2 linked regions of the Homo sapiens genome follow. The protein of the gene in region 1 interacts with the protein of each later gene in a biochemical or structural test. Each region holds a gene or a part of one and is shown on either strand. Other genes may lie near its edges.

What was found.
Region 2: the proteins of NCS1 (region 1) and PI4KB form a complex in vitro, tested with the Homo sapiens proteins (one study listed by BioGRID).

Annotation. Positions count from the first base shown.
Region 1 is NC_000009.12:130,217,326-130,221,133, forward strand, and holds part of NCS1 (neuronal calcium sensor 1), read left to right. Parts: intron 1-506; coding exon 507-645; intron 646-2,399; coding exon 2,400-2,478; intron 2,479-3,808. UniProt on the Homo sapiens protein: Neuronal calcium sensor, regulator of G protein-coupled receptor phosphorylation in a calcium dependent manner. Directly regulates GRK1 (RHOK), but not GRK2 to GRK5. Can substitute for calmodulin. Stimulates PI4KB kinase activity.
Region 2 is NC_000001.11:151,324,479-151,329,060, reverse strand, and holds the start of PI4KB (phosphatidylinositol 4-kinase beta), read left to right. Parts: upstream 1-1,644; 5' UTR 1,645-1,790; intron 1,791-2,687; exon of another isoform or gene 2,688-2,881; coding exon of another isoform or gene 2,882-2,889; intron 2,890-4,143; exon of another isoform or gene 4,144-4,316; intron 4,317-4,582. UniProt on the Homo sapiens protein: Phosphorylates phosphatidylinositol (PI) in the first committed step in the production of the second messenger inositol-1,4,5,-trisphosphate (PIP). May regulate Golgi disintegration/reorganization during mitosis, possibly via its phosphorylation.

The sequences.
Region 1 (3,808 bases):
ACTGAGGGGCAGGGTGTGGGCATGTGGGAGGAGCCACCTGCTGGCTCCATATGGTGGTCTACCCACCAGCACCAGCAGCAGCCCACCCAGCCTGATGCCAGGAGGGGCTCAGCAGAGAAGGTGGGGAGGTGGGAGGGTCTTGTGCAGGCATGCGGCTTTGGGGAGGCCATTCATGTGACTCTTGTTTTAGCCCCCTTGGGTGGAGCACAGGGCTGGGTGGCCAAGTGCTCACTCTGTGTGCAGTATCTGGGTTAATTCCTATGTCAGTTCGTAACCCCCTTATGCAGACGAGGCTAGGAGAGGTGAAGTCTGTATCCAAGGTCACACTGCTAGTGAGAGGCAGAGGTGGGACTGCGCCTGTGCCTATCAAGTCCATGGCCCCATGGGGCACCATCTCTTTGAACAAGGAGCCACAGCTTTCCTGGGCCCCGGGCAGGCGATGTTGGTGGTGGGTGGGTGATGTTGGCGTCTCCTTTACCCTCTCTGGCCCGGTCTGCTGCCTCCAGGTACAAAGGCTTCATCAAGGACTGCCCCAGTGGGCAGCTGGATGCGGCAGGCTTCCAGAAGATCTACAAGCAATTCTTCCCGTTCGGAGACCCCACCAAGTTTGCCACATTTGTTTTCAACGTCTTTGATGAAAACAAGGTGAGCTGGGGATTGATGGGGCCTGCGGCAGCTGGCTCAGCTCCTGTGGGTACCCGCAGCGTCTCCACACCCACTCTCTCCTGCCGATGTTCCCTTCTAGAGAAGGAACACACACACGAGTGCATACTGACATGCACAGATACATAGTCGCACATAAATGCATGCACATGTACACATGCAGACACACAATAAACACAGATGCATCCAAATGCATGCACATGTGTGCACACATATGTACACCCACACATGTACTGACATGCACATCCAAGCTCTCACACAGACGTGTATGTGCACATGCAGGCGAATACCATGCACACATGTGGGCACACATACATGGAGATGCAGCCACACACGTGAACATACATGTATATTCATACAGTGCACAGAAATGCACACATATGCACACAATGCATGGACTTGCAGGTGCACACACGTGTACACACAGAGAGACATATACACATATGCATATGTATACAGTGCACAACACACATGCATGTATACACATGTACACCCTGACACTTCTCTTACAAGCATAAAATGCAAATACCTCCCATGATAATAACAGGATTAATAATAATAACCAATATTTCCTGAACATTTACTATGTTTAAGCTCTTTACATGGATTTTTTTTTTTTTTGAGACAGAGTCTTGCTCTGTTGCCGAGGCTGGAGTGCAGTGGTGCAGTCTCAATTCACTGCAACCTCTGCCTCCCAGATTCAAGCAATTCCCCTGCCTCAGCCTCCTGAGAAGCTGGGATTACAGGCGCCGTCACCACACCTGGCTAATTTTTGTATTTTTAGTAGAGATGGGGTTTCACCGTATTGCCCAGGCTGGTCTTGAACTCCTGACCTCAGATGATCCACCCACCTTGGTCTCCCAAAGTGCTGGGATTTCAGGTGTAAGCCCCCTTGCCCGGCCATACATGGATTATTTTTAATGAGGCCTTACAAGCACCTGGGAGCTGGGTATTTTAATACCCATTTTGTAGGTCAGGAAACTGAGGCTCTGAGAATCGTAGGCTATAGGATCTTTTGTTCCTGGCGTTTTCCACTGAGCATCATGTTTTCAAGACTTACCATGTGGTAGCTTGTGTCACCTCCGGGCAGTGGCTGCACGGATAGCTGTTGGGTTATCTGCGATGACCCTGATTCTGTCCTGCAGTAGCATTTGAGGGTGGATTTACTGCCACTTGTCTCTGTACCCCCTGCTGCTGGCACCGTGGAGGTTTCTATTCTATCCCATCCCCAGCTTCTCCCAGGTGCCCCCAGGCTGGGAGTCACATGCCTGACCCTGGGAAGGGCTCTTCCCTTCTTGGGCCTCGGTTTCTTCATTTGCAAATAAGAGGTGGAATTAAACAACCTGCAGCGGCCTTTCCTCTGCAAAAGCCCATGAGCCCACAGCTCTAGGCCGAGGGGCTTCCGGGCTGTTGCTGAGAGGAGCTCAGGCATTGGTGCTTCTGGCACCTTCTCCCATCAAGAGTGGAGTAAGCCTCTCCGTTCAGCCTCAGTCCTTCTTCCTGTGCCTCCCTCCTGGCCTCTCCCACTTCTAACCCCCCACACAGTCCCCCAGCCTCTGCTCCCCACCCTCTCCTTGCCTCTCGCCCCCCATTCCTTCGAGCCTGCCCTCTCCACCTGAGTGTCCATTGGCCACAGTGTCTGGAGCCTGCGACTGCCCCTCGCCCGTCCCGAGGTTCAGCCTGACCCGGTGGCCTGGCCGGCACTGACTGAGGCAATCCCCTCTCTCTCCTGTCAGGACGGGCGAATTGAGTTCTCCGAGTTCATCCAGGCGCTGTCGGTGACCTCACGGGGAACCCTGGATGAGAAGCTACGGTGTAAGTCCTGCCCCCTTGGCCCTGTGTGGCAGCAGCTGGAGGGCCCAGGTCAGAGGGAGGCAGCCCTCGGCCCTCACCAGGCAGGGGTGCCAGACACCCACTGCAGTGACCACAGATGGCGTCCCAGCTGTGTCTGCAGAGGGCAGGCCTGGGCCCTGGGCAGGTGGCCCTCACACGGCCACGTAACTAGGCCAGGCTGACTGTCCAGGGTTCAGAGAGCAGCGCAGACATCTGTGCTTCCAGGTGGGAGGGTTTCCTGGAGGCACCGGCAGCAGGAAGGAGCTCGCTGAGGCAGGTGGACAGGGAGGGCTGGGGGCAGAGGCTGGCAGGAGCCTTGGCTGCACTCGGGCAGGTGCAGACTTGGGCCGCAGGAGGGTCGGTGGGGACCCAAGACCCAGGTTCAGTGCCGGACCCACCTCTTTCATAGCCATTGCTTTGATTCTTGCTTTCAGTCATTCACTTACTCACTCATTCATTGACCAAATAACGACTGAATGCAGCCACGTGTTGGTACCAGGGATCCACTGGGGGATAAGATAGATGGGTCCCTGCTCTCAGGGCGATCAGTCTAGAGTGGCAGCAGGATTTAAAAAAAAACCTCAGGAAACTGCAGGCAAGGAGGAGAGAGGGAGTTGTGAGCAGGAGAGGACCTGCCTGGTAGGCGCAGAGCTGGGGATGAGAGGAGCTGGGGATGAGAGGAGCTGGGGAGGGGGCGTTAAGGGCTCCAGCCAGGGGGCCCGCGTGTGCGAGGCCCAGTGGAGGGAGGCTGAGAGGGAGTTGGGAGGGGAAGCTGTGCAGGCCCCTGGCGGCATTAGGAGGAATGCAGGGTGCGTGGAGGGGAGGGAAGATGGAAACCAGCTGGCCAGAACTCCCTGCTCAGTAAGACTTTCACACTTCAGTCCATCGGCAGCAAGAAGACCCTGCAGTTTCTTTTTCTTTTTCTTTCTTTCTTTTTTTTTTTTTTAAGAAATAAAAGAGAACTTTATTTATGCAAAAGCTCCTCCTCTCAATGCACTATTTTATTTTCTAATGTTGACTGTAGCAGGCCACACCATAATTGTGGGAGCAGAGTGGACTGTGGGGAGGAGGTGGGGGCTGGAGTTGGGGGAAGGAGAGGGGTGCTCCTCTGGGTAACATCCCAGGCCCCGGGCTCTCCCACGCACTCAGCTCCAGCCACTGATACCTCGGCCCTGGCAGCCCAATGCCCCATCCCTTTATTTTATTTGTTTATTTATTTATAGACAGAGTCTCGCTCTGTTGCTCAGGCTGGAGTGCAGTGGCACAATCTCGGCCCACTACAATCTCTGCCTCCTGGGTTCAAGCAATTCTC
Region 2 (4,582 bases), on another chromosome or scaffold:
TGTTGTATATACTGCATGTTTTACACAGGCATTTTCAAGCTATTACACTTTATTCTGCCTTCCAATTAAACATTGTAGCAGTGACTCTTTCATCATCTATCCTGTATGATTGTCCCAATAATTAATAATAAAGTACTATAGTAGCAACTTGTACTCTCTTGATCCTAACAAAACCCTGTAATGGGCTAATATTACTTCATCCATATGTCTTCTTTGTAGACATAGAAACTGAGGTTTAAAGAGGTTACATTAGTTATTCCAAATCAAACGGCTTGTAAGTGGCAGGGAAGATGGCATTCAAGACCCGGGCTCAAATAACTAGCCTCAATGTATTAAGTAAGGCACTAATGAGGGGCATTGCATATTAAGTAAAGCCCTAGGAAAGGCATTGAGATAGAGGTTCTGAGGACAAAGAGGGCTCTAAATCAACAATCTTAACCGAAAAATACACAAAAAACTTGCTGGGCGAGGTCGGGCCTATAATCCCAGCACTTTGGTACCTGAGGCCGGCAGATTGCTTGAGGCTAACAGTTCGAGACAAGCTTGGGCAACATAGCAAGACCCTGTCTTTACAAAACAAACAAACAAACGAAAAATACACAAAAGCAACACCAGAGGCCCATTTGCATGGCGTGTTTTTGTTTATTTGTTTGGCCTAATATGGTTTCGTTTTGTTTGGAAGAAGGGATTGTGCCCTCCAAGCCTTTGTCGTTTCACTCACCTCTCCCAACCTGGCCCTGTCCAGCCCCTCCCTGGAGGGCTGGGCATATGGATGCTGGAGGTCACAGGCTGCCCAGGCAGGTTGGTGACCTCGGAGGCAGAACCACGGCCTCGAGTCGGGCCTCTAACGGCGAAAAGACTGACGCGGTTGGACCGCGCCATTCCCGAAATGTTAAGGAGCTTAAACTCCGCATCGTCCTCCAAGATAAGTAGGAAAAGGGCAGTCAGAAAGAACGTCTTCCCCGTCCGCCGTCTTCCTGCGCGCCCTTCTAGGAACCCAGCGTCCATCCCACGGCCTGATTTACTAAGGGAGTCTTGTAGCATACGGGAGGGGGAAAAGTCATTGATTGCAATTACGGTAATTTGGTTAGTTACTCAAACGGTCGTTTACATATAACTTGCATGTTAATATACTTCTGGAAGTATGCATATGTCCATACTTCTTTAACAGGGCACCCACGGCCGCCTGCTCACCCTACTTATGCAGCAAATTTTACTTCTCTCTCGGCTTCTTTAGCCTCGCAAACGCTATCGCTTAGGTCCGCTTCTTAAATATTGGCCCCTCCTCCCACCCGTAAGCTCCTCCCTTCGCCCTCTCTCCCTCGAGAGCTTCCAAACATCTTTTCCCCGCCCCCTTTTCTATTTCTGAACAGGCATGTTCCAGGCAGCTCACCCGACTCCTTAGATTACTATGGAATCGGTAGGGTCCTGACCGCTGGGGAAGCAGGAAAGCGTATCCTGGGAAGAAAGGCTTGGCTTGGACTCCGGAGAAGAATACTACATCGAGACCTGCTGGGGAATTTTATTTTATTTTATTATTTTTTTGGTCTTGGTTGTACTGAGGGAGGAAGAAGAGGTTGTGTGGCCCGGTCGAACTTGTGGCAGCCTGAAGGCCCCCTCAGGCGGCGCCGCGGGCAGCCCCGCAGCCGGGGCCTGGTGCAGCCTCCGCGGCCGCTGTCAGGGAAGCGCAGGCGGCCAATGGAACCCGGGAGCGGTCGCTGCTGCTGAGGCGGCAGTGTCGGCAGTCCAACCGCGACTGCCCGCACCCCCTCCGCGGGGGTCCCCCAGAGGTAAGCTACTCCTCCTTCATGAGTCACCTTTGCCCTGTTGGGTGGGGGGGGGGGTCCCTCTCCCACCCTGTCCCGCACAGTCTTCCCCACCTGAGTTCGACTACGAAACTGCCCTCTTGGTGTCAGCTGCACCCCGGGTTCCTTCTCCACCCTTTCCTCTCAGGCCTGGGGTCCTCCTCCGCTTTTTGGCTTCCTCTTCTATTAGCTCCTCCCTCTGCCTCGGGGATTCCCCCCTCCCTCACTCATCCCTGTTGCCTACGTCTCGAATAATTCTTTTTTTTAAGTCATGAACCCTTTCCATATCAGACGACTCCCATAATGCCCATCCTTGTCCTTCCTCGTCGTCTCTGCCCCTGCCCCAAACCTTTTCCATGGACTCCACCTTTATCTCTTTTCCTAGTTTGCACTTTTCCTCCTATGTCCCTGTGCAACTCCAGCACTGGGTTCCCATTTCCCTGAGCTAAAGATTGCATCCCTGTCTTCCTGTGCTGCTTCTGATTCCATTACCTCACTGTCACCCACCTACCCAGCCAGCTCCTGGCTTCCAAGAATTGCCTGTTCCCTTCTCCTTAAGGGATCTCGGGCCCTTGTCATCAATCCAAAAGTACCATTTACATTCTTACTTTGAACCTAGTCCTCACTCTTCTCTGGGATGCATTATGATCCCTATAACTTTCTTTAGCTTCTCTTTCTCCCTCCTCAATCCCCCAACTTTCTAGAGGTTTCTGTCTGTAGGGGAGAGATTTGACAGTGCCCTTCCCATTCAGGATTTCCAACTTTGACACCTCCCTCGAGTTTCAGGGATTTCTCTGATCCTTGTGACATTTGTTCTGTTTTTCCCGTGGGCTTCATGTGTTCTCTGTTACACTCTTTATCTCCACATACCACTTATTTCAGGATCAACTAAACCTTGAACTAAGAAGAAAAATGTGTTGTGAGCAGGGGGAGCCTCAGCTGCCTCAGGCCGTTCAGGACAGAAGGGTGTTTCTGAAGGCCGGAGCAAGTTTTGAAGAAGTCCCTATCAGATTACACTTGGTTGACTACTCCGGAGCAGCCACTAAGAGGGATGAACAGGCCTGCGTGGAAATTGAATGAGATTGTGAGAAAACTTGTTTCAGATTATTTAATTTTAGGCTTTTGTTAAAGGAATCACAGAATAGAGTGCCTTCTCACCCCTGTCCAGATCCATGAGGAATCAGTTTATTCTTGTGGTTTACTAGAATAGTTTTGGTTGGTTCCATAAGAATTCAGGCCTGGAGTGGGGTAAGGGTATAACTGGAAAAAGGAACATGAGACAATGGAAAGAGCTTGTACATTCAGAATCGGGACTCCTGGGTTCAGCATGTGACTTCCTCACTTGACCTCTAGAGTGATCCTTTTGGAAAATGCCCACTCTCTGTAGGCATCAGTGCAGTAATAAGTTGGTAGCAGGATGTGGGTTGGGGGAAAAAATCAGATTTGGTTTATTTGTTTACAAAACATTTTGGGTTCCTCAGGCAAAAGGTATTTATTAGTAGTGGTTTAGTCATCCTGAGAATTTTCCTTCACCTTGGTCTTTCTGTCAGATGTTTCTAGTCCACAACCAGGGGTGTAAGTCATTTTGAAAGACAAGCTCCAGGCCTGCTTCCTTCATCTGCTTTGCTTTTTCCCCCAGTGCATTAAGTGGCTGATTTTCTGTCCTGTTCCTCACGTACTTGATCCATAACTCCAGATTCTATAGGTAGAAAGTATGTTTGTGGGAAAGCACTTTGAGGAAGCTGGCTGGAAAAGAGAACTTGGAGTGAACTGAGACTTAGGCAACTAGTTGCTGCCATGTCTCTCTCAGCCTGTGATAGCGAAAGGGCACGTGAGATTCCATTCATTTTCTGATTCTAGGTCTGTTTGGGAGTAGTTATGTCATCTTATCCCACTTCCTTTCTCTTCCTTGTCGTTAGTCATGGTGCAGTCTCCTCATAATTCCCCTTATTAGAAGCTTTCCTGCCAGGCGCGGTGGCTCACACCTGTAATCCCAGCATTTTGGGAGGCCGAGGCAGGCAGATCACCCGAGGTCAGGAGTTCAAGACCAGTCCGGCCAACATGGTGAAACCCCATCTCTACTAAAAATACAAAAAATTAGCCGGGCATGGTGGCGAGCTTCTGTAATCCCAGCTACTCCGGAGGCTGAAGCAGGAGAATTACTTGAACCCAGGAGGCGAAGGTTGCAGTGAGCCGAGATCACGCCACTGCACTCCAGCCTGGGTGACTGAGTGAAACTCTGTCTCAGGAAAAAAAAAAAAAAAAAAGCAGCTTTCCTCCTTGGAAGCATCCCCAACCAGAAATCATATTTCCTCTCATTTCCCTGCTTTCTTCTTAGAGTTGAGTCCACGCTCCATGAGAATGCTGAACACCATCCAAAGCAGCAAATTGAGATTCCTTGATTTGGGGAAGAGGTTTGGGAGGAACCCTTCAATAATTGGCATGGGACAAGAGGGGACCCAGTCCAAGTGTATTTGGGACTCGCAGTAGGGAGGAACAATTCAGAGAGAGGTGAGTGCACAGGCTGCTTTCTTTGCCATCTGTTTCAGTAGCGGCTCCCATAGCTGGCTTGGGCTGTCTGGCTGGAATCTGCTTATACCAGCTCCATGGCTCTGCACAGAGTTCTCAGCCTGAATCAATATTGACTTAACTACCATGAGACCACTGCCCTCCCTACCCTCGTGCTAGTAGCTTGAGAATGCCCTCTCCCCTAATGCCCACACTCTCTGGGCCCTTGTGTCAGCAGTTACCTGGATCCTGGTAGGGCTGGAGCTGGC